Linked DNA regions of Homo sapiens: region 2 is linked to region 1. Evidence: fine-mapped expression QTL. A gene starts in region 1. The other region holds a variant in brackets. All regions are shown on one strand. Distances are from middle to middle. Region 1 holds the start of OGFRL1 (opioid growth factor receptor like 1). Region 2 overlaps LOC124901339 (a long non-coding RNA gene).

Region 1 (8,338 bases):
AAAAATTAAGTGAGAATAACAAAAATGAATGAACGAACAAACAAATAAACAACCCCAGCAGTACACACACAACATATCCTGCTATTTTTTGATACATTTGATATATAAGATTTGGAAGACCACACGGGTTCAGAAGAGTCTTGGCAGCAGTTTAGGTGCCAGTGAGGGAATTCAATTCATTTGTTACCAATATTTGATAGTAAAATATTTGACCCTTTATATCTATAATAAAAAATGCAGGCTGGGCGCGGTGGCTCACACCTGTAATCCCAGCACTTTGGGAGGCCGAACTGTGTGGATCACCTGAGGTCAGGGTTTCAAGACCAGCCTGGCCAACATGGCAAAACCCCGTCTCTGCTAAAAATACAAAAATTAGCCAGGCATGGTGGCGCATGCCTGTAGTCTCAGATACTTGGGAGGCTGAGGCAGGAGAATCACTTGAACCCAGGAGGCGGAGGTTGCAGTGAGCTGAGATTGAGCCATTGCACTCCAGCCTGGGTGACAGAGCGAGACTCCATCTCAAAAGAAAAAAAAATGCAGAAATCTCTTTGCTACTACAAGTTCAGTTTAGTTGAAATTAGACGTATGTGTGTTTATTTCTGTATCCCATTTAAAACAACCTTGAAAGCTTTGTTTTTGGTATACAGGAATTGCTTTAATTGCTGGTCATTTCTTTGAGAAGAATAAGAAGAAAGAATATTAAGGAAGAGGTAATGGACAGCAGAGATATTTTTGCAACAAGCCTTAGAAAGATAAAAGAAACATGCAGAAAAACACTGAATTGCACAATTGCATTGTCCAAAAAGAAAGAAAGATTTTTGTAAGAGGGGCTATGGTGATGTTAGTGGTTGGCAAGGATACAGGAGAAGATATCTCAGAATCATACAAAAAGTATAGAATATTTGCAGGGAGGAAGGAGGAAAAAATATTTTGTTTTCATAAATTATAACCTATTATAAACTCCTACCTTAAGGAAGGAAGATCCTGGGAAATTTCCAGCAAGTCTTGTCTGGTCAGGAACTCTATGTGAGGTTGTACATGCTGTGTCCTGCATGAAGAGTTCAGTTAAGGTGGTGGGAGGGAACTCCAGTTCAGGCCCTGCTCACTAAGCCCTGGAGCAAAGGTGTCTTATTCTCAAGAACACAAAGTTCTCATGGGTGCTAGCAGAGGCCCTTGGCTACAGTCAATGGAAAATAATATTACAGCATGTTACTACTAATTTCAGATGTTTCTTTAGAGAGCCATCTTTATTATTTTTAATTTTTAAAATAATACTATTTTTTTTTCCTCCAAAGATTTCAGGTTCCTGTGAGGTACTGAGGAGTTAACTCCTGAGGTTGGGGAAAATGGCCCTTGATCTGCCCTTTCCTTTTATTTGAAAGACTCTCAAATTATGTAATAATAAACCTTTGTTAATGTCCCTAAAACAGGATTGACTATAAAAGACAATTCAAGATATGCCAGATACATTTGGGTTTCATCCAAAAAAGTTTAGTTCCTGAAGCACCAGTTTCTTTGTCCTTTGTAAAATGGCCTCACCCTTAAAGGATTTCATAACGAAGTTGAAAACAGAGTTATATTGAAGCATGGCTATAGCATCTGCTTAATTTAGAGCAGATTCTATTTACAGGGAGTCAGAAACTATATTATAGTCCATTGTGATAATAGTTTCTCCTTGTTCCATACATGTGTATATTACTGTTGAATTATATGTTCTTTAAAGACATATTGAATGAATCATCATTACAGCTAACATATATTGATAAATTAATAGATGCCTGGCACTGAGCTAAGTGATGATTTTTATATGAAGCAAAGGTACCCTTCTTTACTGTTGATGCAGGAATGTTAAATACTCTGCAAGGCAGGGATAATGAAAAAAGTTTAGGTATTCGAGAAGGATAATTCCTGTGTATAGAAGCTTGGGATGACAGAACTTCAGCATTAACTTGTAAAAATAACACATAGATTGGGCACAATGTGGTCGTGCTTATTGCTCTAAACTTAAAATTGATTAAATATTATATAAGGTTGGTGTTACGCTTCATGTAAAATTATGTTCTTTAGAAAATATATTGCAAAATCTGGCATATCATCTATGGTCCTATAAAAATTGACACATTTTTCAAAAGGTGGTGTAAAAGGGAAGGATTTAATTGCAGTAGTTACTTAAATGTTTATATGCACAAACACAGATACTTCTCACCATTCCATCATCTACTGATGTATAACAAACTACTACAAAATTTAGTGACCTAAAGCAACAGCCATTTTATTGCATTTCACTCTTCTGTGGGTCAGAAATCTGAGCAGGGCTTTGCTGGGTAGTCCCTTTATTCCAAGTAGGGTCGATGGAGGTCACTGAAAGGTATTCAGATGGTGGATGGGTTGGTCTGGAGGATTCAATAAAAAAAAAAAAACAAAAACGTGGAATCCAGCAGGGGATACTGGAAGGTAGGCCTCAGCTGGTACCATGACCAGAGGATGACCAGAGGCCACACACAAGTGGCCTTTCTAGGAGTATGGCAGTCTCAAGCTAGCTGAACTTTTTACATGGCAGCATGGGGCTAACAGAGAGAATATTCCAAGAGACCCAGTGGAAAATGCAAGGTTCCTTATGGCTTAACTTAGAAAATCCTGGACTATCACTTCTTTCATATTCTATAGTTAAGCAAGTCACTGAGGCCAGCTCCTTCAAGAGTAAGGAATAAGACTACTTCTCAATGGGAAGAGAGCAAAGAACATGTGGCCAACTTTAATCTACATACACCTAAACCAACAGATGGAGCGCCTGGGACACAACAACTATCCTTAGACTTTCCACATCAACAATCTCGGAACACTTAAGGCTGGATGGACAATATCTACTTCTGCAATGTGTTCCGGTCTTCTACCAACGGAAAATCGAATTCCCAGCTTTGAGCAGTTGGATTCCTGTGGTATGTGGCTGCCCCACATCTTCTTCTGCTAAGCCATTATAATCAAAAAGTATTTTTTTTGGCGGGGGGTGGGGGCAATGGAGTCTCACTCTGTCGCCCAGGCTGGAGTGCAGTGGCCTGATCTCAGCTCACTGCAACCTCCACCTCCCGCGTTCAAGTGATTCTCGTGCCTCAGCCTCCCAAGTAGCTGGGATTACAGGCGCCCGCCACCAAGCCAGGCTAATTTTTATATTTTTTTGTGGAGATGAGGTTTCGTCATGTTGGCCAGGCTGGTCTTGAACATCTGACCTCAGGTGATCTGCCCGCCTCGGCCTCCCAAAGTTCTGGGATTACAGGCGTGAGCCACCGCACCCGGCCCCAAAAGTCTTTTTGTGCACCCCGTGTCTATTTCTTATTAGTTTCAGAGCTTTTCCCAGTCATAGGATCACAGAAGGTCAGAGCTGGAAGGGCTCCCAGAGATCTGGTTTCATTTTACAAATGAGGAAGTTTAGGTTCATGTGACCTACTTAAAGTCAGAAACTGATTAGTGACAGAGCTACAGCCTAGATGTCTTGTTGCAGTGCATGAAGAGCTTAGGTAATCCTGATTTATCCATGGAATAGGCAGCTGGTTTACCTGATTCTTCCCTTAGAAACAGTCCATCTAACATGATTTGGCTTCCTACTTCATCATGAAACATTTGAAAAGAAACTATTCATTCCAAGTTCAACAGTTTAATCTTCAAATATCTAGCTCATCTTTCTTAGTCCATATTTAACAAATGTTTACTGAGCATCCACCAAGTTGACAGCACTGTAAATACAGACACACTTTCAGACGGGGGCTGCCTGCAAAGAGGCTTCCCTTCTAGTTAGAAAGCCAGAAGACACATTTTACAACAGTCACTTTTCTCTGGGTCACATATTTGATAATACTACCTTATCTTTACGTACTTCTATAGGCTTATGCCTGTAATCCCAGCTATTGGGAGGCTGAGGCAGGAGAATTGCTTGAAACCAGGAGGCGGAGGTTGCAGTGAGCCGAGATCGCGCCTCTGCACTGCAGCCTGGGCAACAGAGGGAGACTCTGTCTCAAAAAGAAAGAAAAGAAAGAACAGAACAACAGAACAGAACAGAACAGAACAGAACAGAACAGAACAGAACAGAACAGAACAGAACAGAAAAAAGAAAGAACTTCCCTAACACAGTTCTCCCTCCTCCTTTCATTTGCAGAACAGACCACAGGGCCGAGGCTTCTTCCATTAGAAACAGCCCATCTGTTCTACTGATTCTGAGATTTTTGCCTACACGGAGCACCAATTTGTAGTGGGTGTAAGGTTACCCGCAAATCAATGTGATGGTCCAGTTGTTACTGTTCCTTTTGTTTCACGAGCGATTGCTCATTAGATGAGGTGACTGATAGCTCTGACTTTTTCTAGACCACAAGGACTCTAGGTGGCTGCCCTAAGTACAGTTGTGGCAGCTGGGATTTCCTGTTTATATGGTGCCCGGCACCATCAGCTTTTGTCCTCTGCTGCAGCTAAAGTGTCTTCCTCCTGGACCAGGGAGAGGGGGAGGGGGTGTGGACAGGACCCGCCTGCTGACGGTGACACCTCTTCGACACCACGTCCACGCCAGTCCTCAGCTCCAGGAGCTGGGCGGGATCCCTCATCCCGCTCAGCTGGGAGATGCCCCGGGAGGGCGTCCCCCGGCTCCGGGCGGCGAGGGTAGTAGCCGACCCCAATCCACTCCGGGGGCCGCCGGGGGCCGCGTGAAGGCAGGTGTTCCGGGGAGAAACGTGGAAGGGAGGCGCGGCCTGGGGCCGGTGGCGCTCGGCTGGGGGCCGCAGTTGGCTCCCCTGGGGGCTCTGGGCGGCGGCAGCTCCCGCCTGTGGGGAGGAGAAGGAGCCGGATGGGCGGGTTCAGGCGCGCGCGGCGGCGGTCCCGGGGCCGCCGGCTCCTCCCCGCGAGGGTGCCTGTCCGCCGCTCGCCGCGCTGAGGCAGTGCGGGGCGGGCGCGCCTAGGCTGCCGCCCAGCGCCCTCGCCGCGGCCATGCCCGGGCCCTAGAGCGCCTGCCGCAGCTTGCGCCCCGCAGCCCCGCAGCCCCGCGCCCGCCGCCGCCTCTTCAATGGGCAACCTGCTCGGCGGGGTCAGCTTCCGCGAGCCCACCACCGTGGAGGACTGCGACTCCACCTGGCAGACCGACTCGGAGCCCGAGCCCGAAGAACCAGGGCCGGGCGGCGGCAGCGAGGGCCCGGGGCAGGAGTCCGAGCAGCCCGCGCAGCCCCCGGAGCAAGCCGGCGGGCGGCCCGGCGCCAGCCCCGCGCCGGACGAGGACGCCGAGGCGGCGGGCGCCGAGCAGGTACGCGGCCCAGCGGTGGCCTCGGGTCGGGCTGGGGCGCCCCGACACCCCAGAGGGGCAAGTGCCAAGCCGCCCTCGCGCTCGGAGGCCAGGGGCGCCAGGTGGCTGCTCGCCGCTGCGACCCGACCCCTCCGCGCCGCGGCTGACCTGTCTCCCGGTGGAGCCCGGGGGCCTGCAGGAGCCCAAAGCGCCGGACCCTCCCACTGCCGGCCTGGGGCCTGGCCGAGGGCACGGCGAGGAAGTCCCTCAAGGCAGAACCCAACTTGAATGGGTGTTTTCTTTGCCTCTGCAGAGCAGCTGGATTATGCGAAGGTGGGGTGGGAGGAACCTGTCTAAAAATAGAGGATTTTGACAACCCCTCTAGTGTGTGTTATTGGTAAAAAAAAAAAAAAAAAAAAAAAAAAAAAAAATTACTCAGAATAAGGTGGGGCTACAAGTGCAAGCAGCCAGCGCTCTCCCCTACAGTGGGGTCTAAGCCGTCAGAAGTGTAGGCCCTCATCTGAAGTTCATACGTCACTGTTCTGCCCAACTCAGGCCTTTCAACCTAGGATTCAGGGCATTCTTCACGAATCTTATTTCACCAGAAGACTTGTTGATCCAACTGTGTTTGAACTGTTTGACTAATACAGCTTGGAGGAGAGGTTAGTCAAGAGATAAGCCCCTTAACCTCTGATGGACTGAAAATAATCAGGAACTTTAAAAAGGAGGAAATATGTAGCCGACCCCCTGAAGAAGTGTGCATCCTGGAGGTGGTTCAGGTTTGCCGCTCCACATTAGGCCCTTCTCTTTATCAGCTAGGGGCGATGGAGATTGGGAAAATGGAGCCCAAAGTCCAATGTGACCACAGGGTTTTGGGGGAATCATAACCTAAATATTACAGCTAACACCGCCTCAGCCATCTTGATGATCAATTCTATTTAGGTAAGGAGGAAATCATAAAGTCTTAGTGCAGGCTCTGTGTTAAACGTGTTATTTAAATGAACTACAATTTTGGGGTGGGTGTTTGCTGTGTGGTCTCCATTTTAGAGAAAACTGAGGCTTAGAGAGAAAGGAAAACTTGCCCAAGATCACTGAGGGAGAGGATGATGCAAACCCAAGTCTATCTATCACTGATATCAGCGCCTTGGACCTGTGGAATTCTGAATTTCCATCTGCCCCTGTGTCTGGTTTGCCGCTGTTGTTTTGCATTGCTAATTCAATCTTATTAAATTATTAGATGCTGCATTCTCATGTTTTTCCCTTACGTTTGTCTCCCAATTAAGTAACCTCCTACAGAAATTTGGAATATCAAAAAACACCAGCTAAGATTCAATCCAACTAACCAGGTCCATCTATATAAAACATTTTAATAATGTTCAGTCAGTTAACTGCAACCCCAGTAACTAGTAGACTACACCAGCCCTCCCTATTCCCTTTTAATGATTAATTTTTCTTGTTAGTATCACCATCTGACTTCCCCAAAAAATCTGCTTTTCAATTTTGCCTTTTGACTGCCAACCCTATTTGTTGTCTATTCCTCAGAGTCAATCCACTTGCAGGTAATACTGGAGCTACTTTTAAAGCGTATCCCAGACTGACTCCTTCACACCACTTCCATTGCATCATCCTAGTCCCTCTGAATACTGAACAAATGATGGTGACATTAACCAAGACAGGGAAGTCTAGGGAGAATGCAGCTATGGAGGTTAAATCAACGATTCTCTTGAGTTTGATATCCTATTACACATCCAAGTAGAGTTGTTGGGTAGTTAATCATTTGTTGGGTAGTTAAATTACATCTATGAATGGAGACAGTCCAGGACTAGAGTCCTCAGCATCTGAGATCAATGGTATTTAAAGGCATGGGAAGATAAGGGGTTATCAAGGAGTGATGACGACTGAGGACCTTAGGCACCCCTCCATTTAGAGGGTATGAAGAGGAGGAGGAGCCAAAAAAGGAGGCTGACAAGGGGAGCCCAATGAGACAGAAAGTAAACTAAGAAAGTTATAGTAGCCTGTAAGCCAAATACTGACAGTGTTTCAGGAAGGAGGGATGCTTTAATTGGCCCAGTTCTGTTGGGAGGTCACCTGAGGTGAACATTAAGAAATGGTTTGGCAAGATGGAGACTTATTGGTGAAGTTCACAAGAACTATTTTGTTGGAGTGCTGAGGACAAAAGCCTGATTGAGGTGGGTCAGGGGAAAATGGGGAAAGAAAAGAAGGAAACAAAGTATGGGCAATTCTTTGGTGGTGATTTGCTATAAAAAAGGAGTAGATATATGGATCTGTAATTGATGGTAGGCCTGGGTCAAGGAATGTTTTGTATGTTTATTTTAAGATTAAAGATACTACAGCATGTTTGTTTGAGATCGAGAAGAGAGGGAAATTTTGATGATCCAGGAAAGAGGAACAATATTGAACAACAGAATCCTTGTCTGAGCAGGTGAAAGGGGTCTGGGTAGAGAGTCCAAAGGGAATAGGGGTTGGAAGAGCAGGAGCAGATGCTGGCAGGACACAGACATTCTTATGATAATCCTGAGAAATAGGTAGGGCTTGAGTCATTATCTTTATTTCAGAGATGATAAAACTAAGATTCAGCTAAATGATTTGCTTAAGGCCTCACAAATACAAGTAAGCAGCGTTCAGATTGCTAGTCTTCTGACTCCAAGTCTTGGGCTACTGATACTACACCAAGGTTTCCATATATCCTTCATTTTTTAGTGTGACTGAGATTGATTCAGACCTGGACTTGGGACCCAGAGCCTGGGATTCTTGTTCTTGCACTGTCACTGGACTCTGGGTGGTGTGCAACTTCTCTAAGCCCCTGATATCTTGTTTCTAAGATGGAAACACTTATTAACTGTCAATCAGGTGTGTTTTAAGAATCAAATGAAATAATGCCTTTTGACTGTCAACCCTGTTTGTTGTCTATTCGCTATATATGTAAGTGCTTTGTAAATGGAGAGTGCCTTCTATACAAATGTAGGATGATGATTCATATGGTTGTATCTCAGGCTAAATAGATTCAGAAACTTGCTAGGCAGAGCTATTTTGAAACGTGTGGCAAGGACCAGAATTCAA
Region 2 (8,338 bases), 37 kb before region 1:
AGGGCTAGGAGGAAGCTCTAGGGTATCTGCTCACACACAGCCGCTCTGCTGATGTTTATGGTTGCCATATGCTGCCCCTTCCTCTTTTGGTTCTGTTTTATTAATCTTATAATAAACATCTTCTCTTTCAATAATTCACCTCAAATACTTTTTGATAAGATATGATGCAAATACATTAAATTATGAAAATAAATTATATTTTTTCTATTTTTGTTAATTTTCCATTTCATTGGGTCTCTACGGCTAAGGTTTGAGTCCATGACATTTTTGGGTTTTGGCTCATTATGATCACCATCTGGTCTCTCTCTGCCCTTAATCTTTTCCCTATTTTCTCCTGTTTCCTCTCACCAAAATGCTGTCACCAAACACATCTTTCTTTCCCACTGAACTACTGTCACTGCCACCTCCTGTATCATGCACTGTCCCAGAAGATATTGCGCTAAGCCATAAGCAGTTTCCTCTTCAGCTTGTGCTTCCTTTGCTGTTTCTTCTTTGTCCTGCTTATAGCACCTTCCTGGCTTCATCTTCTCTTTCTTACTTTACAATACCACTAATGCTCCTGTAACACAAACTACCACCAATATAAAATCTCATGTCATCTGTTTGCCCTTTAATAATCCTTGAAATGAATTCACTTATAAAAATCCTTTTAAACCTCAGCAATTATATTCATCTATCACTACCCAGAGCTCCTGAATATTTAAATTATATTATAATTACGGTGCATTATTTTATTAATTGTATTAGTGAATAGTTCTATAGAACTGTAAGTAAATCATTAGACATAGTCCCTTAACCCCTTCTTCCTCAACCAAAAATATGATTAAATAATTTTATATATGTGTGTACTTTCTCTAAATTCCTTTCAGAATGACATAACGTAATAAATTTAACAGGAGACGAAATCAGGATGGCAGAGACAGTTAGAAAACTGGAAAAACAGCATCAATTTGGCAACTGATTACCTACTTTGTTGCTGAATAGAGGGTGATAAGTAAAGAATCTAGTCTGAGAAGAACTAAGTTTGAATCTTTGGCATTATGTTCCCTCAAATGTGCAGGTATCAAAATGAATTATAATTGGGAATAGCTTCCAAATTTATTACTCAGTACAGAACATAGCAGGTATCAAATCGAATTGAAGAATAAAACTAAAAGAGATATCATAGGAAAATAAAGTGGCATATTGTAAAATTAAAATACCCTGTTTTTCATATAAATTATTTAGCTGAAGCTGTATGACAGAGTGTGAAAGAAAATTGAAAAGTCTCTTTACCTTAGAAATGTTTGTATTCACTGACATGTTTCAACCTGGTAATAAATCAGCTTGGGGACCTTTTCCATAAAGAGATGTCACTATAAATTAGCTTTTACATTTTTATCTTAAGTAGTATCATCATAAAATATTCAATCAAGACACTAGAACTGTCAAAGTAGGTGGGTAATTTGAGACCTGGTGTTAAAAAAAATCTAATTCTTTCATGTTAGGATTTTTTTTCTTGTATATAAATTTTGATCTGTGAAAATACCAGGACTGTCATGGTAACAATAGATAATTTGCTCATAAATTATAATTATCACAAATGTTAGCAATCATGAATGCTAAGTAAGTACTTTGATCAGAAACTAACAAGAACAGACTAAATTGAAAGAAAACAGCACACCAAAATGTTTGGCCCTATTTTGTTCTGCCACAAAAGGAAAATATTCTTATGCAGCTGTTTTTTTTGTTTGTTTGTTTTTTGTTTTTTAGTTTTTCTTAGGTTATCTATCTTTCCATCTATTTCTTAATTGTAAAACAAATTTTAACAATTACAATGATGATAATATATTAGACTTCACATATAAGATTGAATGTGATCTTTTCCATACCCATATTAGGCAAGGAGACCAGGAAACACATAAAGAAACTAAAGCCTACACAGGTCACTGGGTGTCACTTTTGTCATGGCTTCTCACACTTCAGCAGACAGCAAGAGCTCATCTTCTTGGCTATTTCCCAAGAATACCATCTTGCTTACTTCTCCTTGCAGAAGGAGCATGTTCTCATTTTCACTGGCTCTTTGACTCACAGGCTGTACCAGTTAACTGTTGCATGCCTCAGGATGTTTCTGCCCTGGTGACTGGTTTAGCTATGCATTTCTGACTTTGACCTCTGACTTCACTGTTTGCTGTCTGCCTCCATCCAACCATTAAGGTCCTGAGAGCTACTTCCTGCCACCTCCCCCAACCCCTTAAGCCCATTTGAGCAAGGCTAGCTCTGTCTAGCCTCCCGCCAAGAGAGGGAGAGCCCAGCCCAGGAGCAATAAAGCCCAGATGATAATTCAAATGAAAGCACTTTTGGAAAATGTCATTCCAATGTTTTTGAAAATGACAACCATCACAAATTCTTGACTACTATCAGTTATTACTAGGCTGGTGACCTTGATAAAAAAAAAACACAATTATTATGAAGGCAGATCTGTGAATTTCTCTTACTTTTTAAAACTGAAGTAATAAATTCCCCAGGTATAGACTTCAAACAGCATCTGTTGACTTAATTAGAGGGGAAATGCTTCAAGGATGAATTCTTTTCCTACTCTGTTAACTTTTCAACAGATGATACATCTGAAACAATAGGCTGGGAGCAGGTGTGTGATGGCCTGAGTCTTAGCTTGCATTTGGCAAAACTCTGACTACTGAGTGAAGCCATTAGCGATGTTGTCAGTGAGATTGATGATGTTATGCATTTTGAAATTGTCCTTGACAAATTATATAAAATGTACAATTCTTCTCCAAAGACATATCATGAATTGTAGCAAAATGTAACACATATTACACCATTTCTCAGGGGTGAGGATTTTATTAGCTCAATGAGGCACACCCAGATTGAGTTGAAAAAGGTCTCTGAAATAATTCTACTATAATGTGTCATTGTAAGCAGTTCAGAGTCGACTGAGAAGAGCTGCTTGAATGAGCTGAGAGGGGGCTATTTAAACAACACCATGAACCTCTCCTATCATTAGATTCCTCCTTCCATATTAGATGGGGACCTGGTATGATGGAGGGGGTGGGTCTTGCAAAGACAGACTCCAAAGATGTGAGAAGACCATGGATAATAAACCTGAATCCAGTGTGCCAGTCAAATGTGTTGCCCTGAGCTTCTTAAACTAAATGCATTTGCCCTGTGCATAGGAAGAAACATCTGCATAGATGGATTGGGGCAAGTTCATCACCGCCAATAATTGATAATTTAAAATATTATCTTATGTTAGAACAGAGGTATTATGAGATACAATTTAAAAGTCATAAGATTTTTAAAAAGAAGAATAAGAATGTAAAGAAATCTATGTTTGCACTGGTTAGCCACCCTCCAGTTATGGGTACACATCTAGCTGCCTCTGACTTAAACATATTCATATGGACATGCTTATTTTGGATCAGAAAGTGGGTATCTAAGGATGGAGTCAGAATGGACAGGCAGAAGTACCACTTTAGGAAGCTTGAAGCATCTCCAGAGACCAAGGCTGAAATCCACACAAGGCTGAATAGATATGCTAGATCCCTTCATCATTCCCTCCCTGCTTCTCTTCTCTTCATAGAACTAAAGCACAGAATCATTGAGTTTCAAGATTCAGAGAGTTTTTTTTATAGAACCATCAAGTCTAATCTTATTATATGAAAATTGCACAAGAGTCTTAAGAAGTGGTTTTCAAGCATCTTTTGGCATACTTTCAATGACAGGAAACACACCATTTCGTAAGACAGCTCTTTCTACCTTTCAAGAATGTGAATTATTTAGGAAATGTGAGCTTGGTATGAGTACTCGTTTCTGAAGTCAAATTGTAAGAAGGAAAATTGGCCTTAGAAATCCACTTATCCTAACTTCTTATTCAGTGCTCTTTTCATGAATCTGTAGTAGATATTCTTGCTTCTAAAGTGGTCTAAAGAAAACTGGGTTGACAAAACTCTGAAAGGGAAGTCCTAACTCAAGCCAGGGGAAAAATAGCAAATGACATCACAGGAAGTTATGAAATCTAATTCAGTGGAGAAATATGCAGAGCTTTTGACCATCTCCTAAGACTGGGACAGGAAATTCTTACTCCACTTTTGGGTTGCAGGGCTTGTTTACGAAGAATATTTCCTCCTTTGTTATTCCCTTTGGACCAGCTTGCAGATTACTCAAAGATACTCC[A/G]TTGCCTCGGCCTGGGGGAAATAAAAATCTATTGTCCTATTAAATAAAATTAAAGGATGCACAAAAAAATATCATAATGATTCTAGAATTACTCTCAATTCTAGAGAGTCAACTACATGTCACTTTCAAAATCATCCTAGGGCATTATCTCAAAGTGATAAAAACATTTCACTTTTAATTAAGCAATTGATTCTTCTCCCTTGTCAAGTGCAGAACTTATGTAAAGATTTTATTGTACTCTATACATTCTTTTCACAATATCTACCACTTTAGTGTATCATCACTACTCCCATTTAATGCCCTATTAACTGAAATCTTGAAAAGGATATAGGGCATATGAAAGCCAACCTTATTTAGGGATCTATAGCTTGACATTCAGTTCCTGCTCATCAGCCCCTAAAGTGAAGTTTTATAGCAGATGTGCTCCATTTCAACAGAGTGCATGAAGTTCTCGGTCAAAACTCTTCTTACAGAGACCTAGAAGGAAAATAATCCTACTCATGCAACAGCAGAGGAAAGAAACCCTAGTGATCTACACCTTCTTTTTAAAACCTGGCTGGACAACAAAGGATAAAGAGAAATGTGAGAACTGTCAGCAGCATTCAAAAGAATAAGCAAGGTCAAAATACAGAAAAACTGATCTGAGAAACTAGAAATAATAATCTGAGCCACAAACTGTTCAAAGTTTACGTATAATAAGTTCAATCATTAGAACACCCTTATGAGGTAGGTACTATGTTACTTTATTTTACAGATGAAGGAACTAAGGTACAGCCTCTCCTGCCCCCAGGCTTAACCTCATGGTACAGGAAACCATCTGTAGGGTCTGTAGTTTCCCCATCTCCTCCCAGCCAAACCCCCGGTCATCTTGGCTTGAGTGGTTCCAGAGGCTCCACCAGGAAACATGGTTGCCCTCCTGACTGTCTTGGCACAGAATGTTGGTTGTTTTCATCCTTCAGGTAGAATTTAACCTTTTCAGCTTCAAACTGGAACCAGAGAGCTATTCAAACTAAGAAAACAAAGTTCATATGTACAGCAGTAAAAATTAAAAATCAAATTGTTAACATAGAGTCATCTCTACAACAACAACAACAACAAAACTTCAGAATTTGGCAGTGTGCTGAAAGAATTGGAAAATAAATTGATTATCAGCAGGAAAATAGAGCAAAAACCCAATAACAGTTGTTCAAAATATATAACAATGTAAAGTGACTTTAGCATCAGTTATAAAGTGTGACACCTACACCTGATTTTGTTGCAAAGCTCAGAGAAATGAACCTAAGCAATTAAAAATACAGTAAACAGTTTTAAGAAAGAACAGAGGTTGATTACATGAAAAGCTTAATAAAGACAAGAAAATAGCCAAAAATTAGTTGAATACTGTATCAAGGAAAATTGACATATGGGCTTTGGGTCACTAGAAACATGGAGAACTTTCAGAGGAATGTTAAGCAAAGTTCCTGTAGACAGAATACAACAAAGTAGTCTTCCAGGAGAAATGGTAGATTTTGCAAAATTCCTTCAGTAAACAGGAGGATGTCAAGGGTGCTGGATGATTGTGATCACCAGAACTTTGTAAAAATGAGAAACAAACATAAAAAGAAGACAAGATATATAGGGAAAGTTTTGCAACACCATCCTGGAAAAGCACAGGATAAAGTGCAACAGTATGAAAGATACATTAAAAATGTCTGACTCTAGAAGAGAGGAAAAAAAATCTATTCAAAATTGGAAAACTAAAAAACAGCAAACAGGGAGAATACTTTCAAGTTAAAGGGAAAGATGAAGGATAAGCCAGTCCTTCCTCAAAGTAAACAAGAATGTAATCACAAGCAAAAAGAGGAGCAAAAAAACCAAATTGGTGATTGAAGCTTAGAAAAAACAGAAAAATATTTAAGTGTCAATTAAATATGCTTATATTTTAAGGAAGCTAAAAGAGGAAGAAGAGAAAGAGACAAAGTGGCAAAAAAACCATCAATGTCAATGTAAACTAAAATTACTACCTGAAAGTAATACCCAGCAGAAGTAAAAACAGGAAGAATTTTTGAGGCTTGAAAAGGAAATAAAGGAAAAGGCAAAAAAAAAAAAAAAAAAAAAAAAAAGGAAATCTGTGGCTGATGAAATCTCCAGGTTTCAAGAAAGAGACTGATATAAACTTGAATTGAAAATTATAGATGGACAGGCAAAGGAAGGTGAAAAGACAGAATAACAAAAAGACTATCACAATTAAAAGATTGAAAATCATCAATATGAGATCCCTGCAGGCTTTCTAAGTTTACCAAAGGTTGGAAAGAATTAGACCGAAAATATTAGACCAACAAGTTCTGGGTCATTTCTACATGACCCACACAGGGAGGGCTATTGCTATCTGGAGACGAGTAAAGAGAAAGATATGAGATAATGAAATTGGTATTTACGCGAGGAGAATGTTAACATATTCAATTATTCTGGCAGATATAGTGACTAATTGTGTCCTTTAAATATCACTAAACTAGTCAGATTGATTATTAATTGTGCTGTAATGTGAATTGACAGTTCCATGCTGGCATCGTCATCAGTATTTCCTGTTTACGCTGAAGAGGTATTTAATGCATGTGTTGGTTTATTACCAACATAAAAGTTACTTAAATAAGTTTATTTACATACACTTAAATGTTCATTTAAATGCTCAGAACATTTTGAAAGTATTTTGTTTTTGTCATGGCATAGAAAAACAAATTGGGACAATCATAGAGTGACAATTTTTAAACCAAAAATTTTACAACTTTCAGAAAGTAGAGGTAAGCTACCTTGAGAAATAAAAATGTAAAGGTTTTTTTTTTTTAGTTACAAATCAGTATCTTTTCTAAGTTTAACAAATTGGTAGTTTTAAATTTTTGTGTAATAGGTATTTTATATCTGTTTGAAACACACAACCAAAAAAAAACAAAAGAAAAACAAAAAGAAAAGAAACTGTAGGGGAGAAAAATACCTTTTCCTTCTACCCATCTTAGGTTTATTGGTTGGGCCCCTGTAACAAAAGACAGATTAACAAGAGAAGAGCACATCTATTTATTTCATATAAGTTTTATGTAACACAGGAGCCTTCATTAGGAAATGAAGACCTGAAGAAAGCGTTCAAATGTGAAATGGGAGTGGTTTTTATAGCAGGTTTGAAGAAGTGTGGACAGTTGTGCAGAAATACTATAAGGTGGAGTATGAGGTAAGTGTAGTAAACTGGTGGAAACTTGGCAAGGCCTGTTTGTTCAGATGCCACTGTGTTCATCTTTGAAGACAGGATGTTCCTTCCTCCCAGGTATAGGGAGGGTACCTCTCACATCAGAGTTTTAGGACCTGCTTCAGAAGGTCAGAAAATTCCTTCCAGGTCAGAGAGACCTTTCTGCCGCTCCTGCCATTTTCTTAATCATTATGCCAAGATGTCATCTTTTGGAGTACTGTGTCCTGAACTCCATCAAAACTAAGGCACAGACAAGTTCCCCAAGGTTGTAAATCCACAGCAGAGCTGAGAATCAAATCCAGGCTGTCTGGCTTTAGAGTCCATCCTCTTAATCACTAGGCAGGCTGCCTCCTAATAGAAGAAAACGTTTAAAATCTAACTAATGTTCTCATGGATATTTGAGAAAGTATCATGACCTTAAATCAAGAATAGGATACTCAAGAAAGGAATAAATAGAGATCAAGAAAGAGCTCTTGGAGCTTTAAAATGGGAATGAGCAAAATAAAACAATTGAAGTACCAGAAGACAATTTCCCAGATCTGCCAAAATAGTAGTTGCATGGGATTCAGTTTATGAACCACCCCAGATCCGCAGTGACTGAATCTAGCAGTGACAGCTGCTGTTCCCATGGTGATGAAGTCAGGTCACTGCTTCTGCCGCTGCTGCTGAAAGGGGCCTGCTGTGGCAGCTGCCTTTGGTCCCTCGTGTCACCTAAGGACATGACCTGACAATATCTTGCCTCCTGCCCCTGCAGGATCTTTTGCTTTCTACCCTGGGGACTCATTGTTGCTGAGGACTCTCTTGACACCAATAACTATGCAACCTGTAAGTGTATAGGAATTATTCCATGGTGCAATCTTTGCCCAGAAGGAGATGAGACTGGGCAAATCACACTTTCTTCTTTTTAGAAGGACTGTGTGGAGAAGCATATCTTTAAACTTCCTTTCT

Evidence for each region. PIP is the estimated chance that this variant, and not a neighbour inherited with it, causes the effect.
Region 2: its variant is fine-mapped to the expression of OGFRL1 in whole blood (TOPMed, PIP above 0.99).

Annotation. Positions count from the first base shown.
Region 1 is chr6:71,283,893-71,292,230 of GRCh38, forward strand. OGFRL1 (opioid growth factor receptor like 1) reads left to right here and starts at 4,919. Exons shown (of 7, transcript NM_024576.5): 1 at 4,919-5,278. The coding sequence starts at 5,045. LOC124901339 (a long non-coding RNA gene) reads right to left here. Exons shown (of 6, transcript XR_007059640.1): 4 at 968-1,048. RefSeq lists a silencer at 4,572-5,631.
Region 2 is chr6:71,246,463-71,254,800 of GRCh38, forward strand. It overlaps LOC124901339 (a long non-coding RNA gene), which reads right to left. Exons shown (of 6, transcript XR_007059640.1): 6 at 4,896-5,182. It also overlaps the pseudogene LOC100132834. Among named protein-coding and RNA genes, the nearest start is that of OGFRL1, 38 kb to the right of the region's middle. RefSeq lists a silencer at 5,013-5,280. The variant A/G (reference allele first, on the strand shown) is at 4,174.